Regions from separate parts of the Homo sapiens genome. Here region 2 is linked to region 1. Evidence: fine-mapped expression QTL. A gene starts in region 1. The other region holds a variant in brackets. All regions are shown on one strand. Distances are between the middles of the regions. Region 1 holds the start of STRADA (STE20 related adaptor alpha). Region 2 overlaps STRADA (STE20 related adaptor alpha).

What was found.
Region 2: its variant is fine-mapped to the expression of STRADA in whole blood (TOPMed, PIP above 0.99).

What each region holds. Positions count from the first base shown.
Region 1 is chr17:63,731,646-63,746,649 of GRCh38, forward strand. STRADA (STE20 related adaptor alpha) reads right to left here and starts at 10,154. Exons shown (of 13, transcript NM_001003787.4): 1 at 10,096-10,154. It overlaps CCDC47 (coiled-coil domain containing 47), which reads right to left. Exons shown (of 13, transcript NM_020198.3): 13 at 13,610-15,004. RefSeq lists an enhancer at 8,280-8,779 and silencers at 8,645-8,813, 10,317-10,436.
Region 2 is chr17:63,699,816-63,714,819 of GRCh38, forward strand. STRADA (STE20 related adaptor alpha) reads right to left here. Exons shown (of 13, transcript NM_001003787.4): 5 at 14,191-14,293; 6 at 13,591-13,712; 7 at 10,913-11,021; 8 at 10,676-10,799; 9 at 7,432-7,603; 10 at 6,820-6,924; 11 at 4,526-4,767; 12 at 4,190-4,232; 13 at 3,017-3,936. The coding sequence ends at 3,784. It overlaps LIMD2 (LIM domain containing 2), which reads right to left and starts at 310. Exons shown (of 5, transcript NM_030576.4): 1 at 217-310. LOC729683 (a long non-coding RNA gene) reads left to right here and starts at 523. Exons shown (of 1, transcript NR_046273.1): 1 at 523-2,870. RefSeq lists silencers at 59-1,018, 2,209-2,288, 10,514-10,808 and enhancers at 723-1,308, 1,309-1,893, 1,689-1,788. The variant G/A (reference allele first, on the strand shown) is at 7,890.

The DNA.
Region 1 (15,004 bases):
TAGATTTGAAAAAACATGATTAGAATGCATATTTAATAGTATTAAACACAAAGCATCATGCAAAAGAAATTTAAGAGGAAAAAAGGTCCATATCCTCATGTAGTCTACAATAGAAAGAGAAAATTAGTGTAAAGAGGCAGATAGATGTTTTTATCTGCAAAAAAAGTTTCTATGGTCTGGAAAAATTTTGGAATTTAAAAATAAAATCAAATTTTCTTTCTTTCTTTTGTTTTTTATGAGACAGGGTTTCATTCTATTGCCCAGGTTAGAGTGCAGTGGCACAATCTCGGTTCACAGCAACCTCTGCTTCCCAGGTTCACGCCATTCTCCTGCCTCAGCCTCCTGAGTAGCTGGGACTACAGGCGCCCGCCACCACACCCGGCTAATTTTTTTTTTGTATTTTTAGTAGAGACAGGGTTTCACCATGTTAGCCAGGATGGTCTCGATCTCCTGACCTTGTGATCCACCCGCCTCGGCCTCCCAAAGTGCCGGGATTACAGGCGTGAGCCACCGCGCCTGGCCTAATTTTTTGTATTTTTAGTAGAGACGGGGTTTTGCCATGTTGCCCAGGCTAGTCTCAAACTCCTGAGCTAAGGCAGTCCACCCGCCTCGGCCTCCCAAAGTGCTAGGATTACAGGTGTCAGCTACCGCACCTGGCCAATAGTGGCATATTAAAAACCATTCTTTTTTTGGAGACAGGGTCTTGCTCTGTCACCTAGGCTGGAAAGCAGTGGTGTAACCACGGCTCACTGCAACCTCAACCTCCTGGGCTCAAGCAATCCTCCTACCTCAGCCTTCTGAATAGCTGGGACCACAGGTGTGAGAAGCTGCCTGGCTAGTTAAAAAAAAAAAAAAAATTGCTTGTGTAGGCCGGGCGTGGTGGTTCATGTCTGTAGTCCCAGCACTTTGGGAGGCTGAGGCAGATGGATTTCTGGAGCTCAGGAGTTCAAGACCAGTGTGGGCAACATGGCGAAAGCCCATCTCTACAAAAATATAAAAATTAGCCAGGCATGGTGGCATGTGCCTGTAGTCCCAACTACTTGGGAGGGTGAGGTGGGAGGATACCTTGAACCTAGGAGGCAGAGGTTGAAGTGAGCCACGATCGCACCACTGCACTCCAGCCTAGGTAACAGACTATGTTGTCCAGGCTGGTCTTGAACTCCTGGGCTCAAGTGATTCTCCTACCTTGGCCTCCCAAAGTGGTGAGACTAACAGTATGAGCCACCACACCCAGCCTAAAAACCATTTTCTTTTTGGGGAAGGACAGAGTCTCGTGCTGTTGCCCAGGCTGCAATGCAATGGTGTGGTCTCGGCTCACTGCAACCTCCACCTCCCAGGTTCATGCGATTCTCCTGCCTCGGCCTCCCAAGTAGCTGGGATTACAGGCACCCGCCACCACACCCAGCTAGTTTTTTTGTATTTTTAGTAGAGACAGGGTTTTACCATGTTGGCCAGGCTAATCTTAAACTCCTGACCTCAGGTGATCCGCCCACCTCGGCCTTCCAACTAAAAACCATTTCCTAAGAAGATTTTGGGCCTGCCAATGGGCACAAGCTAGACACACTTTTGCAAAGAGATAGGATACCCTTCTGTTCAGGTATGAATCTTTATCAGACTCCTCAATGTTCACTACTAAATGTTTAAGACATATGGGTCATATATAACTGACAATAAAACAGCAGTAATCCTGGTATTTGTCAGAATACAATCTTTTTTTTTTATTTCCTTTTAAAAATTGTATTCAGTTCTCTTGCTTTTTCTTCTTCCTTTTATCTTTGCTTTTCTATTCTTGTTTATCTTATTTTTCATCTCAAGTGGAACTGGCTCAAAGAATACAATCTTCAACCCACTCCCATTCCCATATCTCTCAAAAGACCAATTTAAAGAAATAGTATTTACAGACTGGGATTCTGCAGAAGAAGGGTTAATATAGCAGGCCTAACTTCTTATCCTTTAAAAAGTCTGCTTACGTGGTTAGCCACTGGCTGGCATTGGGGAACTTGGATTTTGAGAGATTTCCCATTTTCCTAAAAATGACAAGAGTGGCTTATTATGCCTAAACTATTTGTACAAACAGTATGGTTTATGCTGAACACCTGCTTTCCTTCTGGGAGTCCAGTTTTGATACATGCCAGGCACAGGCTGCCTACATGACCATCCTGGGTATGGAGTTTCTAATGAGCTTTCCTGGTTGATAACATTTCACACATGCTACCACAACTTCTTGCTTTGAGTCCTGTGTCACTCTACTGGGGAGGATCCTTGGAAGTTTGCTCCTGGTTTCCCCCAGACTTCACCCCATGTGCTGTTTCCCTTTGCTGGTTTTTCTTTGTATTCTTCTGTTGAAATAAATCCTAGCCATGAATGTGACTATATGCTGAGTGCTGTGAGTCCTCCTAGTGAATTACTGAACCTGAGGGTGTTCTTGGGAACCTCCAATACAGGGATACCTGAAGGAAATTATTTTAAATGTTCTAAATCTATTCCTGGATTAAGGCTGGCCAATGGATGGCTACAGGCCTAGGTCTTACTCTATTTGCCTCCAATAAAATTATTTTTACTGAACTGTACTTGAATAGCCTTTATTTTATATCAAAAGCTCTAAGAAACTTGTCACTGTTTTCAATAAGAATGTTCTAAAAATGCTTTTATTACTGTGTTCACTAAATGAGAAGAGGCAGAGGAAATGTCATTCTGGATTAAGAATCAGGGATAGGTTGGGCACGGTGGCTCATACCTGTAATCCCAGCACTTAGCAAGGCTGAGGCAGGCGGATCACTAGAGGTCAGGGGTTAGAGGCCAGCCTGGCCAACATGGTGAAAACCCCATCTCTATAAAAAATACAAAAATTAGCCGGGCATGGTGGCACTGGCCTGTAATTGCAGCTACTTGGGAGGCTGAGAATCGCTTGAACTCGGGAGGCAGAGGTTGCAGTGAGCCGAGATTGCGCCACTGCACTCCAGCCTGGATGACAGAGTGAGACCCTGTCTCAAAAAAAAAGAAAAAAGAATCAGGGATACTTTTGCTTTTTCTGAATTTTTGCCAAACTAACTTCAACCTTGACCAAATTAATCTTTCCCTAACAGCATTTACCACATGTGTATTTCAGTCCTATGTAAGAAAATGGTAAAGACACACAAAGAACTTGGAAATGTTTCAAAGATAGTAAAGATTAATTTAGAAAAATAGAAGCTATTAGGAAAGGTTAACATCTAGAAAAGAGCAAATTTGGCTGGGCACGGTGGCTCACACCTGTAATCCCAACATTTTGGGAGGCCAAGGCAGGTGGATCACCTGAGGTCAGGAGTTCAAGACCAGCCTGACCAACAGGGAGAAACCCCGTCTCTAATAAAAAATATAAAAATTAGGCATGGTGGCGGGCACCTGTAAGCTCAGCTATTTGTGAAGCTGAGACAGGAGAATCGTTTGAACCCAGGAGGGAGAGGTTGCAGTGGGCCGAGATCGTGCCATTGCACACGCCAGCTTGGGTGACAGAGCGAGACTCTGTCTCAAAAAAAAGAGTGAGCTAATTTCACCCATAATGTTACTATACAAATCGTAAGAATAATCAATAAGGTTAAAACATGGCTAAAGGCTCATTAAGAGTAACCTGAAGTCAGAGATTTATACTTAAGGGTGACAATATGGCGTAGTAAAAAAAGCACATACTCTGAAATAAGACGAGCATGGTATGAATTGCGTTCTTGCATCTGTGTTAACTTGATCAGCATACTTTGGCTTGCCGAATCTCAACGTTAATAACTCTAAAATGAGGTTAATGACATCCGTCTGACACCTGAGACAAATATCTTTCTCCCTCTGATAGTGATGCTTATAATAATGGCTTATGTTTCTAGGAGAGACCTTAAAATTAACTTTTTCAGAGAATTAGAAAGATTAGATTTCAGGTTTCTGATTTAAGATTTTAGAATCTCACCTCTCTCCCAAGGTCCCAATTAAGGCAAAGGAATACAAATAATAACCATATATCTGAGGACAGAATGAGAGGAGCTATTAGATGAAATTTCAATAAATTTCTAGGAGTTGAAAAGTGGACATAAGGGTGCTGTCTCAGGAAATGGAGAGAAAGCTGCAGGCTAGAATGTGAATGGAGAGTATAGTAGAGGAGACGGCAGATATGCCCAGCAGACAATCCTAAGGGGTTCTGAAACAAAACTGCGCAATAAGGAATGAGGGAAGGAGAAGTGGGGCTGAAAACAAGCCCCTGGCGTAACTGCCCACTCATGTCCATGAGTCTTAAATCCACAGAGCTCCCAGTCAGCAGCTTTTCTATTCCTCTTTTTTTTTTGAGACGGAGTCTGGCTCTGTCGCCCAGGCCAGGCTGGAGTGCAATGGTGCGATCTTGGCGCACTGCAACCTCTGCCTCTTGGGTTCAAGGGATTCTCCTGCCTCAGCCTCCGGAGTAGCTGGGATTACTGGCATGTGCCACTACGCCCGGCTGATTTTTGTATTTTTAGTAGAGACGGGGCTTAACCATGTTGGCCAGGCTGGTCTCAAACACCTTAGGTGATCCACCCGCCTCAGCCTCCCAAAGTGCTGGGATTACAGGCATGAGCCACTGCACCCAGCCCCATACACGGTTTTTAATGAAATTATTTTAATGTACTCCAAATAATATTCCAGTAAAATGAGGCTAAAATTTAAAAAGGAAGCTATGAGATATAAAAAGTGGTGTGTCCAGCCGGGCGCGGTGGCTCACTCCTGTAATCCCAGAGCTTTGGGAGGCTGAAGCGGGTGGATCATCTGAGGTCAGGAGTTTGAGACCAGCCTGCCCAACATTGCAAAACACTGTCTCTACTAAAAATACAATAATTAGCCAGGCATGTTGGCAGGTGCCTGTAATGCCAGCTACTCGGGAGGCTAAGGCAGGAGAATTGCTTGAACTTGGGAGGCAGAGGTTGCAGTGAGCCAAGATCACGCCATTGCACTCCAGCCTGGGTGACAGAGTGAGGCTCTGCCCCAAGAAAAAAAAAATAATAATAAAGTGGTGTGTCCACTGAAGAGATATCTCAAGATGATAGCTACGAAGCTGATCAAGAAAGGAATCAGTCAAAACTAGAACATGAAGTTGGCAGGTTGAAGAAAATATAATAATATCATGAAATATACAGATTATAAAGGATGAAAAATATCACGGACAGGGTGGAAAGTGGCCTATTTCTTCCCCCCACGCCCCCCCCACCAAAAAAAAATCAAGCAGAAAGGCAACCAAAAATTCCAACAGAAATTAAAACTATATTTTAAAAGTCAAAGTCCGAATTTGAAACAAACTTAAATGTGTTACAATTTTTAGATAGCATGGCTGGGCACAGTGGTCCACGCCTATAATCCCAGCACTTTGGGAGGCTGAGGAGGGCAGATCACCTGAGGTCAGGAGTTCAAGACCAGTCTAGTCAACATGGTGAAACCCTGTCTCTACTAAAAATACAAAAAGTAGCTGGGCATGGTGGCACATGCTTGTAGTCCCAGCTACTGGGGAGGCTGAGGCAGGAGAATCGCTTGAACCTGGGAGGCGGAGGTTGCAGTGAGTCAAGATCATGCCACTGCACTCCAGCCTGGGTGACAGAGCAACACTCTATCTCAAAAAAAAAAAAAAAAAAAAAAAAAAAAATTGAGATAGTTCAGCAAGGAATGAGAAAGAAAATCCACTTGACCTTGAATGAGAAGGAAGTTAGGACAGTGGACCGCAGTGCAGAATAACACTTGGCTGTTTTGTGAATAATACTTACAATACTGTTAAGTGCTCATCATCAGCTTATAAATTTTAAGTCTATAGACAAAGCATGATAAACTTAATTACAGTTATAGAACACAATGTAAATGCCTTCAAATTTGATAATATGAAAGTAAAGTTTCACCTGACAGAAGATGGGAAATGGAACAGGGAAGAGATAGAGGAATGACTGGGGAAGCTAATACCCCTATCTTCCTAAGAAGGTAAAGTTAATACTGAAAGTTGATAGGATAACAAATAGAAAGTTATGTACAATATTTAAGGTTACAAAGGTAACCAACAAGTGTAAAAATAGAGGGATTCAACTATCAAAAGTTTGGAGGTGCTGGTTGGGTACAGTGGCTCATGCCTGTGTTCCCAGCACTTTGGGAAACAGAGGTGGGTGGATCACTTGAGCCCAGGAGTTTGAAACCCCAACTCTATAAAAAATAAAAAAACTGGCCAGGTGTGGTGGCATGTGCCTGTGGTCCCAGCTACTCAGGAGGCTGAGACGGGAGGATCACTTGAGCTCCAGAGGTGGAGGCTGCAGTGAGCTGAGATTGAGCCACTGCACTCCAGCTTGGGCAACACAGAGGGACCCCGTCGAAAAGAAAAGAAAAGAGAAGAGAAAAGAAAAACGAAAATAAACGAAAAGAAACGAAAAGAAAAAAGAAAAGAAGGGGCTGGGCACGGTGGCTCACGCTTATAATCCCAGCACCTTGGGAGGCCGAGGCGGGCAGATCACAAGGTCAGGAGTTCGAGACCAGCCTGGCCAATATAGTGAAACGCCGTCTCTACTAAAAATACAAAAATTAGCCGGGCATGGTGGCGGGCACCTGTACTCCCAGCTACTTGGGAGGCTGAGGTAGGAGAATTGCTTGAAACCGGGAGGCGGAGGTTGTAGTGAGCCGAGAGTACACCACTGCACTCCAGCCTGGGCGACAGAGCGAGACTCCGACTCAAAAAAAAAAAAAAAAAGAGAAAAGAAAAAGAAAATGAAAAAAAGAAAAAGTTGGGAGGCAGTGAGGAGGGGGTGGTGTGAGATTCAGCATGACCTTTACTCTCTTGGAAAAATAAGGAGAAGCTTCACTAGTCATTTCTCTGTCTCTCCTGTCAGTGGAAAGTCTAAACATGTTGTTTAGAATTACAGAAGTCCATCATTAAAGGACTAAAACAAAAAATGATTAAATTAATTGAGGCCAGGCCCAGTGGCTCTGCCTGTAATTCCAGCACTTTGGGAGGCCAAGGCAGGCAGATCTCCTGAGCTCCGCAGTTCCACACTGCCCCAGGCAATATGGTGAAACCCCATCTCTCCTAAAATACAAAAAATTAGCAGGGTGTGATGGCATGCACCTGTAGTCTCAGCTACTCGGGAGACTGAGGCAGGAGGTTGCAGTGAGCTGTGATTGTGCTACTGCACTCCAGCTTGGGCTGCAGAGTGACACTCCATCTCAAAATAATAATAATAATAATAATAATAATGGGGAACAGGCCGGGTGCGGTGGCTCACGCCTGTAATCCCAGCACTTTGGGAGGCAGAGGCGGGCAGATCACGAGGTCAGGAGATCGAGACCATCCTGGCTAACATGATGAAACCTCATCTCTACTAAAATTACAAAAAAAATTAGCCGGGTATGGTGGCGGGCGCCTGTAGTCCCAGCTACTTGGGAGGCTGAGGCAGGAGAATGGCGTGAACCTGGGAGGCGAAGCAAGACCGTGCCACTGCACTCCAGCCTGGGCAACAGAGCGAGACTCCATCTCAAAAAAAAAAAAAAAAAAAAAAAAGGGAAATAGACACAGGGATGGAGAGAGATAGAGATGAGACTGGTATTTTTCTTTATAGCCCCCTATACAATTATTTTAATAACTGCACACAGGTATTTTCTTTGATAAAATCTTACTAATAAATTTCATCTGAGCTGGTTTAGAGTAGCTCTACCTAGTGATTAGCAGTAAATGGTATACAAATTATGAAGGACTTTTCTATTTTCAGATTGAATCATGTACAGATGAACTTGCCCAGGCTGGTCTCAAACTCCTGAACTCAAGCAATCCTCCTGCATCAGCCTCCCAAAGTGCTAGGATTACACCATGCCCGGTTATCTGTATGACATTAACATCATCACTCTGCTCCCTTCAAATTTCCTTAAAATGCAAATGTAAATGTCCTTAAAATGTAAATTCTAATGGAAGGGGAGGGCAGATGGATATCATTCGAAAGATATATCCACACTTATCAAAAATTAAGAAATACATATGTATGTGTATATTATATATTATGCATATATGTATATATTATATATGTACATAGTGTATTAATATGTATACATATATAATTTTATGTGTATATATTATGTATACATATTGATACATTATATATTTATGTATATATGTACATATATACATATAATGTACATAATTATATGTATATACATATAATGTACATAATTATATGTATATACATATAATGTACATAATTATATGGCCCGGGACGGCTGCTCCGACGAAGGCCCGGGCCTGGGGAGATGGAATCGGTGGCAGAGCGAGGAGTGACTGGCTCCGGCAGTGCACCAGGCACCCCGCCAGGCAGGTACCTGTTCCTGGTTTCAAACTCCGGAGCTCAAGCAATCCTACTGCCTCAGTCTCTCAAAGTGCTGGGATTACAGAGGTGGGCCACGGTACCCAGCCTATCAGAAACATTTAACACTATATATATATATATATATATACATACATACATATATATATACACATACATATATATATATACACACACACACACACACACACACACACACACACACAACAAAGCAATATTACTAGTGGACAGACATAGAAATAGCTTTATTGGCCGGGCGCGGTGGCTCACGCCTGTAATCCCAGCACTTTGGGAGGTCGAGGCTGGTGGATCACCTGAGGTCAGGACCTCAGAGATCGGCCTGACCAACATGGTGAAACCCCGTCTCTACTGAAAATACAAAAATTAACCAGGTGTGGTGGGGGGTGCCTGTAATGCCAGCTACTCGGAAGGCTGAGGCAGGATAACTGCTTGTACCAAGGAGGCCGAGGTTGCAGTGAGCGGAGATCGCGCCATTGCATTCCAGCCTGGGGGACGAGGGCGAAACTCCATCTCAAAAAAATTAAAATAAAAATAAAGAGAGAAAATAATAAACCCAGCAAACATTTATGGCAAACTTCCTACGTGTCAGGCACTGTGCTAAATGCTTCATGAGCAGCTCACAAGTATTATCATCTCTGTTTTACGGATCAGGAAATTCAGGTGTGCAGGGAGGTTAAATGCCCAAAGTCACACAGATAAGTGGTAGGGGACTAATTAAATCTGTTCCAAAGCCTGCGCTCTAAAAACCAGAGTAAACTTCCTCCATTTCTGGGGCCACAACTATAAACACTGCATTCCAGCCAAAACACCTCTAAGAAATCTGATTAAAAAGTAGGGGACAGATTTGACCAGTTCAGCACTGTAACTAAAGGCTGAATTCACAGGCTTTTGGCAGGTGATCAAATTTGGTTTCTTCCTTAACTCTCAGGGACAAGAAACAGTCCTGGGTGTCTTCAGGAAGGTATGAGTGTCAATGAAGAATTGTCTTAACGTCGCATATACGTATTGGAACATGCTTCTACTTGAACAGATATTACAATAAGAAAAGGGCAAATTCCAACGGCTCTTTCTCCGGGAAAGTCAAGTTAAAGTATGTTAGGATACAGGAGAAGGCTGGGCAGAGAGGTTAGTTCCCTATTTCCTGAGAACTATGAACAATTTTACCTACCCACTGCCCCTCCCTCGAGCTCTCTTCCTTATCCCCAACCCCCATCTCCGGCGCCCAAATCCCCTGCAGGCACCCAAAAAACATTTCTGGAAAACAAAAAGACAATGAGCTCTTCGTTTAGGCCGATTCTGGGAGTCATCTGGATCTTGTGTCCTTACGAGGACTTGACCCGCTGCCTGTCAGCCCAAAGTGCGCGGCGGCTGGGGACAGCGGGGAGCCCAGGACCGGGGTCGGCCGCCACTCTGCCTGAACAGGACAAACCGGCACCCAGCCCTAGGTTCCCCACCTGGAAGTCCTAGGGGGTGGGGAGGAAGGGGAAAGCAGGAGCCCGCCTCTCTCGCCCGGCAACTCCGCTTCAGCGTCTCCCCGCCAGGCCCAAGCCTATTCTGCTCTCGGGCTGCGGCGCCTCATTGCGGGAGTCGAGGACGCGGGTTAAAAAGGGGGCCCGTGGAGGGTGAGGTGAGCCCAGGATGGCCGCTCCGACGAAGGCCCGGGCCTGGGGAGATGGAATCGGTGGCAGAGCCAGGAGGGACTGGCCCCGGCAGCGTACCAGGCACCCCGCCAGGCAGGTACCTGTTCCTGGAGTTAGCAAGCAGCCCCGACCGTCTTGGCTCCGCCTCCTCAGTTTTACTGCCGCGCCGCCGCCAGACCGGTTGCTGGGAGGGGAGTACGCAACGTGCCATGCGCAGTGGGGCGACCGGGAGGACTGATAGAGCGCTCCGCCCCACCCCGCCCTGCGGGGAAGTCCCGCCCTTTCCGAGTGGCCGCGGCTGCGGCAGGCCCTAGCAGCCGCCGCCGCGCCGAGAGCGGTTCTCAGTTCCCGTTGTCTTTCCCGCCGCGCAGCGCTTCCGCCTACAGCCTCCGCCCCCGCAGCAGGAGGGGGAAGCAGGTGGCTTCAACAATGAAGGACCAGAGAAAGGCAAACTTGGCTGTTCCTGAGAATTGTGTTTTTCTCATTTCATGTGGTAGGACTTCTAATGGAAAACCCGCCTCGCACTTTTCTTGGACGACATCTCAAATGCCCCTCACTTTGGCCTCTCGGGCACCAGACAACAAGCTGCAAAGGGGAAGCCCATCCTTTCTTTGCTCCCCACTATTTGTAAAACAAGGAAAATAGCTCAACTAATGAAAACGATCTTGTCCCCTCAGTATCTTTTTTTTTCCCCCGAAGCCTTCCTCATCCACAGCTGAAGCCGTTTGTGGAAACCTATCAGGTTTGTCCAAGCCAGGTTATGCAGAGCTTGAGAAATGAGGAAGCGATGAACTAAGCCTCACTCCTGTGAGACTAGGTTTTTCAGTGACTTATCCCCCGCGTGCGCAGGAGGGGGTATCCAAAACGCGGATATATACCATCAGGTAATGAACACTCGCTCTTGCCAGCTCTGAGCTTTGACACAGATTTAGACCGTCCTAACTTCCAAGACTGGGGGAGGAGTTTAGCTACATCCAAGTAGGGACTTATAGAAATATGCCCCTGGAAGGCCGGGCGCGGTGGCTCACGCCTGTAATCCCAGCACTTTGGGAGGCCGACGCGGGTGGTTCACTAGGTCAGGAGATCGAGACCATCCTGGTTAATACGGCGAAACCCCGTCTCTACTAAAAGTACAAAAAAATTAGCCGGGCGTGGTGACAGGCGCCCGTAATCCCAGCTACTATGGAGGCTGAGGCAGCAGAATGGCCTGAACCCGGGAGGCGGAGCTTGCAGTGTGCAGAGATCGCGTCACTGCACTTCCAGCCTGGGCGACAGAGCGAGACTCCGTCTCAAAAAAAAAAAAAAAAAAAAAGAAAAAAAGAAATATGCCCCTGAAACTGTGGGACCTGTATGCACATGAGTTCTCATTTGATCTTACATACATCACTTTGATTTTTTTTTTTTTTTTTTTTGAGATGGAGTCTTGCTCTGTTGCCCAGGCTGGAATGCAGTGACGTGATCTGGGCTCACTGCAACCTCTGCCTCCTGGGCTCAAGCAATTCTCCTGACTCAGCCTCCCAAGTCGCTGGGACTACAGGCGCACGCCACAACGCCTGGCTGATTTTTGTATTTTTAGTAGAGACGAGGTTTCACCATATTGGTCAGGCTGGTCTTAAAATCCTGACCTCAGGTGATCCACCAGCCTCGGCCTCCCAAAGTGCTGGGATTACAGGTGTGAGCCATCTGTGCTGGGCCACATCATTTTGATTTTATCGAGTGCTTTGACATTGCTAAGGGCTACCCTCACATGCTCTCATTCTCAAAATAAGATGCCACTCTCAGGAGCAAACTTGGTAAACTCACAAAGCAACAGAGTATAAACAGAGAAGTAAAATTTCTAGCAGTGTTCTACTGAAGGGTCTTTCACATGTGGTCTTTTGGAACCGAGTATTAGAGAGACTGTCTGAAAAGATGCTAAACTTCTTGCAGCCATTACAAATGGGTAGAGAAAACATATTGTCTCAGAACTGTTCTGTTTTAGCAGTCTGTAACAGAAGACACTCCTATGGGTATAACTCTTTTTTTTTTTTTTTTTTTGAGACGGAAGTCTTGCTCTATTGCCCAGGCTGGAGTGCAGTGGTGCAATCTTGGTTCACTGCAACCTCTGCCTCCTGGGTTCAAGCGATTCTCCTGCCTCAGCCTCCTGAGTAGCTAGGATTACAGGTTTGTGCCACCGCACCCGGTTAATTTTTGTATTTTTAGTAGAGACGGGGATTTGCCATATTGGCCAGGCTGGTCTTGAACTCCTGACCTCATGTGATCTGCCTGCCTCGGCCTCCCAAAGTGCTGGGATTACAGGCATGAGCCACCGCGCCCGGCCTCTTGTCTCTCTTACATCGTTTCACATCATTCAAAATGAGAGGAGGCAGGAATGGTAAGGAATGAGAACCTGGGATGATAAAGCACAGTGTTTCACCTCTTCCTGCCAAATCCACTGGATTCTTGTACAACACAATTCTAAACAATTCCTACTGAATTGCCAATTCCTACTGAATGGGTGGAATAAGAAATCAATGTTTTTCTTTGGTCTAAATTCCATCTAAAGAAAGGAGTTAGGGCCAGGCGCACTGGCTCACGCCTGTAATCCCAACACTTTGGGAGGCCGAGGTGGGTGGATCACGAGGTCAGGAGATCGAGACCATCCTGGCTAACACAGTGAAATCCCATCTCTACTAAAAATATAAAAAATTAGCAGGGCGTGGTAGCACACATCTGTAGTCCCAGCTACTCTGGAGGCTGAGGTAGGAGAATTGCTTGAACTTGGGAGATGGAGGTTGCAGTGAGCCGAAATTGCACCACTGCACTCCAGCCTGGGCAACACAGTGAGACTCCATCTCAAAAACAAAAAAAAGAGGAGTTTCACATCTGGTCTTTACAGGAAAAGGTTTGCTACTACTAAGGAAACAGAATCATAAGCTACTCCCCTCTTCCTCAAAAAATACCCTATCAATTTTTGCAGATAAAGAACTCTGAAAGGATCTGCTTGGTTTCCATTGGGAGAAAGAAAAGCAAAAGAGAGTAAAGCAAGAATGCATCACTTGGAGACCAGTCCTAGATGATGCCTTATACTTGCAAAGTGCTTAAACAGTTTACAAAACAATCTCACATATATATTTTCTCTTAGTGTTCAACTACCTGTGAAGCAGGCAGGGCAAATAATTACTATCCTCACTTCACATTAGGTTAATAACTTGCCGAAAGTCAAAGGATTAGTAATTAGTTCTGCTGGCACTAAAAGCCAGGTCTTTGTCTTACAGTCCAGTGCTTATTTTGGCATTGCTAAACATCCAGGCAATGCAAATGAGATTGGAGACTTAGTGGTTTTCCAGTTTGTGACACTAAACAACATCCTCCTCTCTTTGTCCTCGCATTCACAGGAGAGTTAATGGAGTCTTAAGAGGTGGAATGCAGGGAGGAGCCCATAAATAACATATGGGGCTCTAAAAATATAAAATGTTTTTAAAATGATTGAATGGTAATAACAAAAGGAATATTCAGATGAACTCTTTTGAAGGAAAAGCATTTCAGTGCTGACTTTTATCGAACAGAAAGAATTTTCCTCTGAGCTTATACTCTTGTAGGATAACTCCACAAAGTCAAGGCGGCACTCTGAGATTTTGTCAATCACTTTAATAGATGTCCATAGGTAGTTCATATGAATGCTTAAGTTACAAAATTAGCTGCCATGGTCCAAATGTATGGGACTTTAGGAAAGCTTTTCTTACTCAAAAGATAACTAAGACTATCAACTTTGATTTCTAAAATGTAATTTAAAGGTTTGTAAAACAAGGCCACTACTATAATTATATAATATTAAAGTAATTAAGTTTTATGTTAGTTATTTTAATAACAACTTCATGAACTGTTAAAAATATTACATTTGCATCTCTCAGTTTACATATTTCTGTATTAACTTGGAGAAAAACCCATGTGAAAAGTTTCCATGCAGTTACAAAGGCAGCAGCACATGCTGTTTTCACAGCAACTTGTTATTGCCTCAGAACAGGCCTGCACTAAAGCATCAACAAAAAATACCCACCACCCCACTCCCACCAGAAAACCCAACCCTTACCCATCCCCGGCAAAAATTACCTGGTACAAGCAATGACCTAAAAATGCTTTCTTGGTAAGAAGCATTTATAAAATGCAGAGATCTGAACAAGCTAAGTGCTCGTGCAGATACATGGGCCTCTCCTCCAAGAGTTGGTTCCGCAAGAGGTGGAAAGAACTCTCAATAGTTTAGGAAAGCTCATTTTCAAAAGTATACTTACACATATTCATGGCCATTTCTTTGAAAGAACATACCCAGCCTCAACTGTGGAAAAGATAAAAGCAGAGGGAGAAGCAACGGCACACAGCCATAATATAGAGAACAGAGCTTCTCCATGAACATCCACCAGGCTGCAGCAACCAAGAAGGAAAAAACATTTGTGATTTCACACAGACCAATGATCTTACCTAGGTGAAGCATTAATTTTTCATGCATTTGTTACTCAAGAAAATAAACATACAACCACTTAAAATACAGCATTCACGTTGTCACTGGTTCGTGGTATCAGGTAAGGAAAAAATGATGCTCCTGTCCCTAGAATTTTCCATGTACATGTCAGTATCCTAATGCCTACAGACTTCCTATTAATTTTGTTATCAGCATCTCCCACCTAAAAACATATACTACATTATGTTCTGGGTCCCTGAAATTTCATTACTACATACAGTGTTCTAATTTTTACTTTTTCTCAAGTTTAATGTAGACATACAAGAAAACATCAAGCAATGTTTATTGTGCAATTCCAATCATTATTTGCAGAATCTTGGTTTAGAGTCAGTCTTTATAGCCATTTCAACTGCTTGGTTTAAACAAAAAGCAACAATCTGGTTATCTACCTATAAATTTCACGGTATTTCTTTAAACACTGAAGTACTAAAAGCACTGATGATTTGTATTATAATTTTTAAAATATTTAAAACCTACACAGATTTCATAGATCATTCCTTTTATAAAATAAT
Region 2 (15,004 bases), 32 kb before region 1:
GACCGGACCCCAGACCCCGACGCCGCGAGCCCCGCCAGCGGGTCTCGGCTCCGCCCAGCCGGGGGCCGGCCCTGAAACGAGGACTCGAGCCTGTGCGCCCCGGGCGAGAGCGGCTCGCAGACTCGCCGGGACCCCACGGGCGGCCCTCACCCCACACCCCTCGGCGCCTCTCCCGGTTCCGGAGCCGGACGCGGCCCCTCCCCCCGCGGCTCTCACCAGGCCCGGCCTGGGCCGCGGGGCGGGATCGGTCTCCGGGGGCGCACGGGTACGAGGAGGGCGCGGGCGCGAGCTGCTGCCGCTACCAGTGGTCCCCGAGCCACCGCCGCCGCCACCGCCTTATCGCTGCACCGCCCCCGCCGGCCCCCGCCCCGCGCCCGCCCATTGGCTCCGCCGCGCCCGGAGCCGCCTTCGGGGCCCCGGCGCCGCCGCCGACCCCCCTCCGCGCTTTGTCTTCCCCTCGCCGCCGTCCCCGCCTTTGTCTGTCCCCCGCCCCGGCTCCGCGCTCCCGGCTCCGCAGCGCCCCGCGGGCCTCGCGCTCGCAGGCCTCGGGTACCGGCCGCGCCGTCTGCCCATCCCGACGGCGGCCCGGCGTGGGGAAGCAACGGTGGCAGGGACAGGATGGAAGGGCCGCGCTCCGCATCCTACTGGGAGGGGACGAGTTCAGGCTGCGGCGGCTGCGGTCGCGGGACACTGGGCGCTCCCGGCCTGGCTCCGGGATAACCGGGCGGGGCCTGGGCCATTCACTGCCTCGGTTTCCCCCGGTTGGCCTCGCGCGTAGGCGCCGGCGCCCCCATCCCCGCCCAGAGCTGTGGGGCCGCAGAGACCCAGCCGGGGCGACCCCGGAGCCTGGCCCGGGGTCCCTCGGGCGGCCGAGTCCTCCCGCCGCCAGGGGCCGCCCCCGCCCCTTTGCGGCCCACGAGGCTGGCGGCGGCGTCCGGGCACGCGGTCTCCAGGCCCGGCCGCGAGGCTGCGGGGAGGAGCCTGCACGAGGGCCCGGCAGCCCCGGCAGCCCCCCCAGCCCTCGGCGCCTCTGCAACCCTGCGACGGGCTGGGGAGGCCGGTATGCGTGGTTCCCGGAGCACCCGTCCCCCGAGGCTCCACGTACTCAAGCGTTTCTGGGGCGGAATTCTGTGGGCAGCAACGGGGGCCCCCTCTCCAACAAGCGCACCTCATTTCTCACGTGGGAGCCGCGGCCCAGAGAGCTGAGGTGACAGAGCTTGGGCCGCAGAGCTGCTCCCTCCCTGCAGCCGCACAGCAGGCCGGAGGCACAGCCGGCGAGAGACGGCCACTCGCTTTGGAGCGGCGGCGAGGCCGGCGCCTTCCCGGGCACCAGGGACTGCGTGGCTTGGCCGGAAATCAGGCTAGAAGCAGCTCCGGGAAGCACAGCCCTTAGCCCAGCGCCTTCCCACACTGTGGCAGGAATAGCACTGGCGGCCCACGCGCTTGTCAGGGAACAGAACAGCTCTCGCCCGACGCCTGGCAGGGGAGCAGGGAGGCTGCAGCTTCCCCAGCGACCAGCTGTTTCCCAGGCTGGCGGACTCCACGGACCGGCTCCGCGTCTCCTCTCCAGCCTTCTGTTCTCTCTAGAGGAAGATCTGCGTTTTGTCTGCACTGTGGGCCGACTCTCTAGTGGGGAGCGTCAGACCCTCTAAAGTGGCTGCCTCTCGGGAAAGCTTCCACACCTGTCATCAGATTCTCCAAAGGGGCTGTTTGATGCAAGAAACGGGAAGCCCCGGGGGTACTAGGAGCAGGGCTTGCTGCCATTGGGCATGGTGAGGCCCCGGCACCCTGCCCAGGACGGGCCTGTGGGCTGAGCTGCAGATGGGCATTGAGGATGCCCCAACAGCAAGGTGCAGAAGGCATCCAGAAGCAAAGGAAACTGATGACCAGCGTCAAAAACAAACAAAAAAAGGGAACTTGGCTCGGCGGTGGCTCACGCCTGTAGTCCCAGCACTTTGGGAGGCAGAGACAGGTGGATCACGAGGTCAGAAGTCCAAGACCAGCCTGGCCAACATGGTGAAATCCCGTCTCTACTAAAAATACAAAAATTATCCAGGCGTGGTGGTGTGTGCCTGTAATCCTAGCTACTCGGGAGGCTGAGGCAGAAGAATCGCTTGAACCCGGGAGGTGGAGCCTACAGTGAGTCAACATGAAGCCAGTGCACGCCAGCCTGGGCGACAGACTCTGTGTTTGTGTGTGTGTGGGGGGGGGAGGGCGGGGCGAGGCGAAGGGAACTTGAGGTTTAAAGCAGGGGGAGGAGGGCCGGAAATGCTCCCCGCCGCCCCCGACACTCACTCGCCCCAGGCCCCATCCTAGCCCAGGGTCAGTGTCATTCCCTTCACCTTAGCCTCTCACTGCCCAAAGAGGCTTACTTTTCTTCTTTAAACTGCTGTTAAAATTTGGGAGGAAACGGAAAGCAAGGGCACCTGATGGTTCAGTGCAGCTTCAGGTTAGAGGGGCATTTGAGGTGCCTGAGCTGGGGGAGGGCCTTCCCCCTGAGGGACTGGGAGAAGGGTAAGCCATGTGCCCTGGAAGCACTGCAGGGAGCCTCAGATTTGCACCCCCTGGCTCACACTCGCTGGCGCCAGCCAGCATGGCAGGGATGGGCGGGGCTGGTTCTTAGGTTTCCTGCTCTTTGGGTGCTAGCACCCAGGGTAAGGAGACACCCATGTCCGGTTGCAAGACAAACCCTTCTACCTCCTTTCCTGCCAAAGGCCACCAGCATCCTCTGCCTCAATCTCAATCTTTGGAACTTTTTAGCTCCAAAGTGGTTTGATGACCACAGGCTAAAATTCATAGTCTTAAAATTTTAGATAGTTAAGAGACAGATCTGTTACAGGTTTTCAAATAAACTGGTCTATCTAGTGTAAGAGGTCACTGCTGAGCTTCAGTGAGCACCCATGGGCCTGCTCTTGGATGGTGGGACAGCTCTCACCTGGGGCAGCACGGCCATCCCTGCAAGCACACACACCAGGAAGCAGCCTGTAGCCCCTGAGCTGACGCAGACACAATGCCATTCTCCAGCAGCGTCTCTGAAAATTTTAATTTGTTCTGACAACGAAACTAACACAGCATAAGGACTTAAGCCCTCAAGCTAGGCAAGACACTGATGGCCCTTGGAGAAAGCACCAGGGCAGCTGGCAGGAGGCGCTAAGATGGATTCTTGGTGGGAAAGGAATGAGGCACACACATAAACCGTGGGAAAGACTTAGGTGTCAGGGCCCAAGCCAGAAGAGGGATAAGGATGGACTGTTCCAGCCTTAGTCTGTGCTTAAAAAGACAGAAATGCCCTTCTCTGGAATTATGAGGGAGAGGTCTGAGGGAAGGGAGGCAGGCAGCTTACTACTTGCCCTTTCACTGACCTATAGCATCTGAGGCATCTGAGAGCAAAGTTAAATAGAATGAGGCTGGTCGCAAGCACTGGGAAGAGGTGGCGGTCCTCGGGTTTAAGGAGCCAAACCCTGGGCTTGGAATTCAGCTCCCAGGGCCAGAGCAGCATCTCTCTTCTGCGGAGGAGGTCACCTGAGCTCACAGGACTGGGAATGTCGGCTTTGGACCCTCCTGATCCCTGGTTGTTGAGATTCCCTTGTGTCTCAAAAGCCTTGGAGCAGTGAAGTGTCTCTCCAGGATTTTCTTTCCCAATCAGTCAGCAGTCAACTTTCCTGGAAGAATGTCCTTTCTACCCAATCTGCCCAGGAGGGCGGGAATGTGGCCGGCCCTCAGGAAGGGCCTCTGGGTGGCCTCTGCATCCCTGGCTGGAGAATGCGCACAGTTTGCAGAGGCTCAGAACTCCCAATCGTCCACCTCCAGCTCTTCCAGGTTTGTTACCAGGCCAAAGATTCCACTGTGGTCCTGAGACTGGCTGCCCTCAAAATTGGTGATGGGGGTGACAGGACGAAGCAATTCGGGCAAAGCCTCTGAGGCACGTCGCTTGATCTGGGGGAGAAGAGAGAGGTGGGTGACAGATCCTGTTGCTCTGGGTCCCAGGACACCATGGGGCAAGGAACCATGGCCTGGTGGCAGACGGGCTGTCGGAGCCAACTCCATGAGAGGAAGGAGCAGTGTCTTTCAGGGGCTTCGGAAGCGGGGTAGTTTCTCTCATTCAAAGGGAGGGGAGAGAAAGCTAAAGGGATTGTGAGTTGTTAGAACCAGAACTAGAACCAGAACCAGAACGAAGGGGCTACGATACCTGCTTGAAGAAAGAGTGGTTCAGGAGGGTGCTGGCACTGGGCCTGGAGGGAAAGGGGAGGAGAGACCGCAGCATCACTGCCGTGTCCCCAGCTTCCCGAAATCCTGCCACTTATGCCTCAGCCTCGGGTCCCCTCTCCCTCTCCCTCAGCTCATGGGAAGCAGTGGCCAGAGCTCCCCAGGCTGGCCTCTGACACACCCAGGAGCTGATCCCTCCTGTGTGTAGCTCCAGATTCCCCTGCAGAACCTTTGGGAGGTAAGTCCCTTCACACCCTGGCCTTACCCTCCTGAGCACCCTCTGCTCTCCCGAAGCCCAGGCCCAGGCCAGCAGGGATACCTGGCATCCGGGTTGCGCTGAAGGCACTGCTCCACAAAGTGGTGGAAGTGGGGGGAGAAGGTTCGGTGGTAGGGGTGGGAGGGCGAGTCACCGTTGGAGGGCCGGGGGGTGCTGGTGGTCAGGCTGTCACTCAGGCCAGAGTTGGCCACTGAGCGCGAAGGGCTCATGGTCAGCTCCTCAGCGGGGATGGTGCTGGTATCCAACAGGCAGGGCACTGTGCCGTTCAGTTTCTCTAGCAGCATCTGGGGAGGACAGAACCAGGACCTGGGCTGTAGCGGGTGGGGGGGGGGGGTGGTCCCTGGAAGGCCTGAGAGTCTCTTCACAAATACACTGTTCCCAATATGCAAATGTGATCATTTGAAGAGTGGAAAAGGTGGAAGTGGAGTAAGTCCAATTTTCCCAAAGAAACGCTGGTCACTGGCGTGGCAGCTCCGCCCTAGCCAGGCCAACGTGAAAGGAGAGGGGTTGCACAAAAGTACCCGCTTTCGCCATGGCTGGAAAGCAGGGCTCACAGTTTCCGCTCTCCCTTTCCAAGGCATCAAATTCCTTTTACCGTAGAGTCTTCACCCTAGAGGGAAGGAGCAGTCAGATGAACCTGCTTTGAAGCCCAGCCGTCTGCCATGCTCAGGTGGATCCGATGAGGTCTGAGAGGCAGTCCCTGCAGTGCCACAGCCTGGGCTGTCGCTGCAGCAGGCCACACGGGAGCAAGATGCCCAAGGGGAGGCCAGGCTGGGTGGCTGTTCCAAAGTACCCCAACTCAACACATATAAAACCAGCCCCACCTGGGACTGCTGTCCTCGTGGAAGTCCTCATGACCGCATAAGCTGTCCAAGCCAGAAACCTGGAAATTGCTCTAGAGCTGCACTAACGTGATAGCCACTAGCCACTTGTGGCTATTTCGATTTAAATGAGGTTTAAAATTCAGTCCCACAGTCTCACTGGTCACCTTCTAAATGCTCGACAGCCACACAGTCTCATGGCTCCCACGCTAGACAGTGCAGCCACAGAAGCCCTCCTTCGCTGCAGCAAATTCTAGTGGATGGTGCTGCTTCTAGGCCTGGACTTCTTGTTCCTCCTCAGTCACCTTTTCTTTCCTGAGCATCCTCTGTCACTGAATTATTTTACTGAGATCTCCTAGATTCCTCACATAGACTTCCATACCCACCTAACTGAGCTACTGGATCTAATCCATCTGCCGGGGTGGTCTTTGTAAATGAGCCATCTTATGCTGTCACTCCTGTGCTTAGAATCCTCAGCACTGCTCCACAGGCTTTAGGACAGGAACCAGTGCTCTAAAGTGGCATCAAAGCCCTTCACAATGTACCCTTGCTTCCTTCTGTGCCTGTCACCTGGCAGTCCCCAAGAAGCACTGCACCTTGGCCATTTATACCATTTACACCTCCTTGCTGTTCTCCAGATCTGTTTTTTCTAGACTCTGGGTCTCTGCACATGCTGCTGTCTGCCGAGAAGAGTGTCCTAGTTCCTCCTCCACACAGGTGACTGCTGTCTGCCTTCCAACTCAAGGCTGCCTCCTCCCAGGACTTCCCTGGGCCCCTGCTCTGGGGGGCTGCACTCTGGCCACCCTCCAGCTGCCCCTACCACCGGGCAAGCAGCCTGTGGGTTCCGGAAGTGGCTTAATTAGAGCCTGCATCCTGCCCCTCCCAGTTCCAGACCACACTCCAAGTAGCTGGGACCCAGGTAATCCTTGCCCAAATGACCCCAAATCCATTTTCTGGATTTAATGAGGCTTGCATAAGCCTCTTCCCTGGGTCTGTTTTCCCAAGGGTAGACTGTGCCACTGACTGTGCACCCTTGGATCCTAGGGGTGGCCAAAGGACAGGCATCTGGAGGGTCATGAACAGAAGCTGAACTTACAGAATGGGGGTTCCAAAGGTGTCAGCTGGAATGCGGTTAAGAACTGTGGGAATTCTAAATTAGAAACTGACCTTCCAGGTATATTTATCCAAGTAGGAGGACAGAACATATTTTATGCATTTATAAAAACTAGTTAGCTTAATGTATATGTTTTAAATAGACATGTAGCGTGTGGGCCTCCATTTGCACCCCTGCTCCCGGGCTCCCCTCCCCAAGCTGGCCTCCCTTACCACCAGGTTTGCCACAGGAAGTAAACAAAGAGTGAGGTCACTATCCCCCACTGGGTGGGACTTCTTGAAGGAAAAGACAGGGTCTTTCATCTTAGTATTCCTAGTCTGTGTCCTGAGTGTGAGAGCTACTCAACGAACATCTGTGGAAGGCAAGCAGGCAAGAAGGAAACCGATGGGCGGCAGGCTTACCTGGGTGGCAGGCATATCCTTAAAGGGGACATGGCCGTTGGCCAGTTCACAGGCTGTGATTCCCACACTGTAGATGTCAGACTTGGCATCATAACCCTGGAGATTCTAAGCCAGAAAAAAAAGGCCACAGATTACCCCATTTGGTCTTTGTTCTTAGAAAAAGGGTAGAACTAAAGAGAGGAAAAGGATGGCTGTCCCCACATCAGGACCTGCTGCTAATGACTCTCCTTGCCTGTGCTACTGAAGACTAACTGGTATTTTACCACCTGTAACTGGCGATGCTCTGTAAGGAGCAGGAAGTGCCAGCCCCATGCCCCTGCTTAGCACAGGGATCCAGAGAGCAGCAAACATTTCCAAAATGCTCACTCTTCTCATAGGGTGCCAAGGGTCCCTAAAGGGAGCTGAAATTTCATCCAATAGAGGTTAGGACCCCCTGGGAGGAACCACATCCATCTGCAGTGGACAGGCGCTGCCCACGCTGAGGGCTCCCTCCCTCCAGGAACCCCTTTACCCCACTGGGAGGTTGAGAGCCCCCGACTCCAGGCAATGCCTGAAGGCTCCCTTGGGAATCATGAGTTGGGTAGGGGAGCTCCTCTGGGCCCACACACAGACCTGCTGGAGGACCTCGGGGCTGAGCCACGGCAGAACCTTGACACTGTACTTGGGAAAATCGTGGACCACTCGCTGCCGCTGCCCATGGCTTATCATGCTGAGGTTGCTGCGCAAACCAGACAGGTAGACCTTCCCATCCACAGAGATCAGGATGTGGCTGGCTTTGACACTCCTGGGGAAGCGGGGAGGGTGTCATGTCGAGAGCAGGAGCCCCTCCTGCTACAAATTTTTGGTCTTCACACACTCCACCTGGCCAGCTCTCTCCTGTGTGCGTGTGTTATACACGTATATGTGTATTTTACATATACATAACCATGTTTTTGTTTTCATTGAGATAAGAGTCTCACTCTGTCACCCGGCTAGAGTGCAGTGGCTCAATCTAGGCTCACTGCAACCTCTGCCTCCTGGGTTCAAGCAATTCCTGTGCCTCAGCCAACCAAGTAGCTGGGATTACAGGT[G/A]TGCACCACCACACCCAGCTAATTTTTTTTTTTCTTTTTTTTTTGAGACGGAGTCTTGCTCTGTCGCACAGACTGGAGTGTAGTGGCGCCATCTCGGCTCACTGCAAGCTCCGCCTCCCGGGTTCACACCATTCTCCTGCCTCAGCCTCCCGAGTAGCTGGGACTACAGGCACCCGCCACCACGCCCGGCTAATTTTTTTTTTTTTGTATTTTTAGTGGAGACAGGGTTTCACTGTGTTAGCCAGGATGGTCTCGATCTCCCGACCTCGTGATCCACCCGTCTCAGCCTCCCAAAGTGCTAGGATTACCAGTGTGAACCACTGCGCTGGGCCCGCCCAACTAATTTTTATATTTTTAGTAGAGATGGGGTTTTGCCATGTTGGCCATGCCAGTCTTGAACTCCTGGCTTTAAATGATCCGCCTGCTTTGGCCTCCCAAAGTGCTGGGATTACAGGTGTGAATCACCGTGACCGGCCTATAACCAGGTTTTTTGTTCTTGTTGTTGTTGTTGTTGAGACAGAGTCTCACTCTGTCGCCCAGGCTGGAGTGCAGTGGCGCAATCTCAGTTCACTGCAACCTCTGCCTCCCAGGTTCAAGCAATTCTCCTGCCTCAGTCTCCTGAGCAGCTGGGACTACAGGCTCATGCCACCACATCCAGCCAGTTTTTGTATTTTTAGTAGAGACAGGGTTTCACCATGTTAGCCAGGCTGGTCTTGAACTCCTGACCTCAAGAGATCCACCCCTTGGCCTCCCAAAGTGCTGCCACTGCATCCAGCTATAACTATGTTTTAATGAAAAACTTCAAATCTACATAAAATAGCATGACTCCATTTACATATCACCAGATTAAAAGCTTATTTAGCTCTGTCATCCAGGCTGGAGTGCAATGGCACGATCTCAGCTCACTGCAGCCTCCACCTCCCAGGTTCAAGTGATTATCTTGCCTCAGCCTCCTGAGTAGCTGGGATTACAGGCACCTGCCACCATGCCCGGCTAATTTTTGTATGTTTAGTAGAGACAGGGTTTTGCGATGTTGGCCAGGCTGGTCTCGAACTCCTGACCTCAGGTGATCCACCCACCTTGGCCTCCCAGAGTGCTGGGACTGTTCAGTGCTCTTGTATGCTCTAGAACACCTCTTGCCCTACCTCCTACGAATGCTTTTAATCTGTACTTCTTATCTGTAGGACTCTTGTAAAGTGTACCTAGGGGTACTGTGTTCCGCATCCCATTCTTCCTTTTTCACTCAGGGCTGTAGTTTCCAGACACATCTGTATTGCTAGCTGTGTACCTTTCATCTTTTCTTCTAATTGTCACCTTGGTTCTGGGAAGAGATCTAACACTTTTACTCATCCATCCTTCTGGGGACAGACACTCACACTACCCCTAACCAACACACGTGTGAATGGTGACATCCAAACATGTCCCCTGATGGGTCTGCACGAGGGTTTCTTTAGGGTGTACATCCAGAAGTGGCATTGATGGTTCTGGTTCTGTGACCCTGACTGGCAGCACCGGGCATCTTCCACCACCTGGACAGGAGGCTCCCCGTCCTTGCCACACTGGGACTCGTCCAGCCTCCCAACCGCTGCCAGTCTCATGTGTATAAGGTGACATCTTGTTTTTCATTTGCTTTTCTCTGATTGCGAGATTTGAGTGGCTCTTCCTATGATGGGTTTGTCTTGGGGTTTCCTCTTTTGTAAACTTCATATCTTTGGCCCATTTTTCTTGCTTTGCTGTCCATTTCTTGTTGATTTGCAAGATTTCCCTGTTACTAATCTCCTGTGGTGACAAAGCTAATATCATCTGCTCTGTCACTTGTTTCTTAACCTTTTTCATGGTATCTTGTATTGGATAGAAATCTTCTTGATCTAATCAAATTCATCAATCTTTTGTCTTATGTTTTGTGCTTCTAAAATGTTGAGAAATTATTACATGCCTCAGGTCACAAAAACATTTTCTCACATTTCCTTCTATTTAAGTCTACAGTTTCACATTTTACATAGAAGCCTTTAATCCAGCTGCAGTCCTTCTCTGTATGAGGAGTTATGTAGGGGTCCAGTTTTACCATTTTCCCTACTATGAGCTGATTTCCTGACACTATCTACTAAGCTATCTGTCTTCGCCCTGGTCTCTCAGCATAAGACTGACTCTGGGGCACAGAAAGAAGGAGGCAGAGAGTGGAGTACAAAGGTCCACATCAGATGTTCCTCTCACACAACACTCAAGACCAAGCTGCTCAGCAAAGAGAAAGTCAGTGGCTTCAGCACTAACAGGCTAAGTGACCATCTCCCAAGTCAGTGGCAAGGTCAGAATCCAGATCCTTCTCTCTTTTTTTTTTTTTTTTTTTCAGACAAGAGTCTCACTCTGCCACCCAGGCTGGAGTGCAGTGGTGTGATCTCCAGTCACTGCAACCTCCGCCTCCCAGGTTCAAGCGATTCTCCTGCCTCAGCTTGTAGTCCCAGCTACTGGGACTACAAGCATGTGCCACCACACCCGGCTAATTTTTGTATTTTTAGTAGAGACAGGGTTTCACTATGTTGGCCAGGCTGGTCTCAAACTCCTGACCTTGTGATCCACCTGCCTTGGCCTCCCAAGCGCTGTGATTACAGGCGTGAGCCATCGCGCTGGGCCCTGTTTCTTTTCAGAGCAAAGAGATCTTCAGCAAGAATCCAGATCCTTGATTTTAAACTCTGGCTTCATTAACTTCAGTCAAACTTCACTTTACCTGAAGGCTCAGGGGCATAGCTACCCACTGTAATCATGGGAAAGGCCGCCTAAGAACGCACCTGTGTACATATCCCATGTGGTGGATGTAGTCGAGGGCCTTCAGCACCCCCTGCAGGATGTAAGCAATCGCCAGCTCATTCATGCCATCCATGAAGTGTGTACAGATGAGATCTTTTGCAGAACCTGCAGAAAAGGATTGCATGGAGGCAGTGAAAGGTAATGGAGGAGGAAAACACAGGCAATCTGACAACAGAGTCCCAATAACCCCTTTCTACCAAGAACCCTTTCCCACTCACCGTATGCCATGAATGATGTGACAACCCACAGCTCATTGTCTGCAATAAAAGTGGCTCGATATGGCACGATATTGGGATGGTTGAAGAGTTTGGAGACATGCAGCTCGCCCTGGAAGCAATGATGAAGCTGAAGTCAGAACCAAATGGCACTGAAGGATGCCGCTCAACACAAAGATGGCAGCATGGACAATAGGGGGACCTGGCACTTTCTGGGTGTTCTCAGAGTCATGGGAACAGCCTAAGCAGGTGCCTGCCAACATAGGAAAAACAAGGCCCTGCTGCCTCTGCAGGGACCCAGCACTGCTTTGCCTCTGCCAGATAGGGAAACTGCCAACAACAAAGGGTGCCAGCACACCGACTCAGAGATGATGAAGGCAAACTGTTGACTGAAGACTTCTGAAGTTATAAGCTTATCTCAATTTCAAGGGCCAACGTATAGAATTCCTCTTTAAGATAAGAAAACAAAAAATATTTTGTTGTTGTTATTTGTAGAGACAAGGTCTCACTGTGTTGCCCAGGCTGGTCTCAAACTCCTGGGCTCAAGCAGTCCTTCTGCCTCAGCCTCCCAAAGTGCTAGGATTATAGGCGTGAGCCACCAAGCCACTGCACCTGGCCAAAAATGTTTTCTTTTTTATTTTTTTGAGACAGGGTCTTGCTCTGTCACCCAGGCTGGAGTGCAGTGGTGTGATCCCGTCTCACTGCAGCCTGAACTTCCCAGGCTCAAGTCATCCTCCCACCTCAGCCTCGCTGGTAGCTGCGACCACAGGTGGACGTCAACATACCTAGCTAATTTTTTATATTTTTTTGTAGAGACAGGGTTTTGCCATGTTGCCTAGGCCTGCTTTGGCCTCCCAAAGTGCTGGGATTGCAGGCGTGAGCCACTGTGCCCAGCCCAAAACTATGTTTCTATTATAAAAGAAAACATGGCCGGGCATGGTGGCTCACGCCTGTAATCCCAGCACTTTGGGAGGCGAGGCAGGCAGATCACTTGAGCCCAAGAGTTGGAGACCAGCCTGGGCAACATGGCGAAACCCCATCTATATGAAACATACAAAAAATTAGTTGAGCATGGTGGTGCATGCCTTTAGTCCCAGCTACTCGGGAAGCTTAAGTGGTAGAATCACCTGTGCCTGAGCAGTTGAGGCTGTGGTGAGCTGTGATTGCACCACCGCACTCCAGCCTGAGCAACAGAGCCAGACCTTGTCTCAAATAAAGAAAAAAAAAAGAAAAAGAAAACACAGTTGATGGAGGAGAAGGCCAGCTGAGACTGGCTTCTGCTCCATCCTCAGACCCACCAAACTACTATGAACAGATGAACAGGTCCTAGAGCACCATCAGGTAACCACCAATTCAGAAAAAGTTGTAAATGAAGGAGGGGAGGGGCTGCAACTAACTCTACTGAAGGAAAACTGCCCCAGGCCCTGACTCTAAGCTGGCATCAGGAAAGGAGAGTCTAACTCCCAAGCACTTACTAGACTCACAGTCTCTCTCCGTTTTGTTTTGTTTTATTTTTTGAGCCAGGGACTCAGTCTGTCACCCAGGCTGGAGTTTGGTAGTGCAATCTCAAACTCCCGGGCTCAAGCAATCTCCCTGCCTTGCCCTCCCAAAGTGTTGGGATTACAGGCATGAGCTACCATGCCTGCCCCCTCTCTCAGTTTAACGAGAGAGTGGCTACTTGCTTCTCGAATAGAAAGGAATGTCAGGACTGGGCATAGTGGCTCACACCTGTAATCCTAGCATTTTGGGAGACTGAGGTGAGTTGATTGCTCGAGCTCAGGAGTTTGAGACCAGCCTGGGCAAGATGGTGAAACTCTGTCTCTACAAAAAATACAAAAATTAGTCAGGTGTGGTGTGCCTATAGTCCCAGCTACTTGGGGGGCTGAGGCAGGAGAATCATTTGAGCCCAGGAGGTTAAGGCTGCAGTAAGCCGTGGTCCTGCCACTGTACTCCAGCCAGGGCAATAAAATGAGACCCTGTCTCGAAAAAAAAGAGGCCAGATGCGGTGGCTCACATTTGTAATCACAGCACTTTGGGAGACCAAGGCAGGCAGATCACCTGAAGTCAGGAGTTTGAGACCAGCCTGGCCAACATGAAGAAACCCCGTCTTTTCTAAAAATACAAAAGTTAGCCGGGCATGGTGGTGTGCGCCTATAGTCCCAGCTACTCGGGAGGCTAAGGCAGGAGAATCGCTTGAACCTGGGAGGTGGGGGTTGCAGTGAGCCGAGATCGTGCCACTGCACTCCAGCCTGGGTGACAGAGTGAGAATCCGTCTCAAAAAAAAAAAAAAAGAAAAGAAAAAGAAAGGAACATCAGGCAAACAGGAGGCTGAGAGCCAGAAGATGGCCACTGGTGGCAGGGCAGGCACCTTGTGTCTGGAACAAGATGGCCTGGGTTTGAATCCTGCCTCTGCCATGAGCAAGTTACTTAGCTTCTTTCTAAATAATAAATAAATGAATAAAAAAGCCAGAAGGGAGTGTTTGGAGAAGAAAAGGGAAATATAAATTAGGCTGAGCAGCATTTCAGCCCAATCCTTAGTGCCAAATGGCCAGGATTCTCCACTGAAAGCTTCCATAACTTCCGAACGTTTAGTCTCCCTTCATTTCTTTGTAATTCCTTGTAATTCCTATCAGAGCCAAGAGCCCACCCTCCCTCCATGTGACACACTCATGGTTTATTACCTGCAAGAATGTTACCATCTCATTGGAACAAGCTTCTAGGTTAATCCTCCGTACAGTCACGTACTCTCCTGTTGGTTTGTACCTTGCTAGATTCACAGTCATCAGGTCCTCAAATCCTTTGCCTAAAAGAAAAAGGGAATGCCATACGCAAGGACAAGAACAACAAAAGGTTTTAAGAAAATTTTCCTTTAAAAAAGGGACTTGATTTCAAAAGAAACTTAATGTTAAATTTTTCACTACTGTTACTTTTTTTTTTTTCCTTTTCCCAGCAGAATTTAACTGTTATGTTCATGGCTCACATTTCTTGATTTTTCTCTCATCAGTTCCTTCTCAGCCAACCTTTCTGACTCACTATGGCCAGGACACCGGAAACATGGCAGCCACAAAGGAAAGATGGCAAAAGAGCTTCTTTCCTGGAAGTTTGATCTCTTCCCATACTTGGCATAAAAAAACAGAGAAGACCCACAGAAGCAAGTCTGTGCCCATGAATCCTCCTAACTAGTGGATGGCCTCTGCTGTACACACATCTGGGGCTGCTGAGAAAGCTGCAGCAGCCCCTGGAGCAGAAAGCAGGAGAGTAAGGACGGCCCCTGCACATACCTATCACAGTGAGCAGCTCGTAACACCCTCCCTCTGGCAGAAAGCTACTCATGACCTCCTGTTTAGAGAAGGATGCTATTGACTCTGAGCTCGCATCATTGGTCTAAAAAAGAAAAAGAAAAATAGGTTAGTAGAGAAAACTGGGGGTGGGATGGGAGTGGGGTGAAGGTGGTAATTCAGACCCACGAGGAGACTGGCATCTAAACACACACACAAATCCCGACTCAGTGCCAGCACTATTTGAAGAGAAACAAAACACTACATTCAGGGTAGTAATCAGCACTAATATCAGAGCAAGTGTTAGGGTTGTCTACAAATGAGGAGACAAGGACCTGTTCCCATCAAATGTTAATCTGCTTGTCCTTTCCAACAATCAATGCATTTGCTAAAAGCTATGAAATTCTCACTTGGAGAAGGGATGTCTAGAGAATGAAAGCATGTTTGGAAAAGAGAAGCAGGTGGAGAGGTAGGGGTTCTCATGAATTTCCTGATGCATTAGGATCCTATTTTTAAGGTCCTCACCACAAGATCCCAAAAGGTCAAACGCTGAATCTTGCTCTAGGGAAAATGTGGCCAGGAGTAGCCCCCTCTTTAGCAAACCAAGAGCCCGGGCCAGTCATTGCCTGACATTTCCAAGTGAAGTGGGAGAACCCTGATGCCCTGAGCTGCAGGCAAGGCACAGAGCTGTCAGGTCTCAGGCATCGTCCAGGCAGCTGACATGGCCTGCTCCCTCGTTCCTGCCCACGTGTGCTGTGAGTGAAGCTGGAGTCCAGCCACTTAGGATGTGTCACAACTCTGGCCTCTAAGGTCCTAG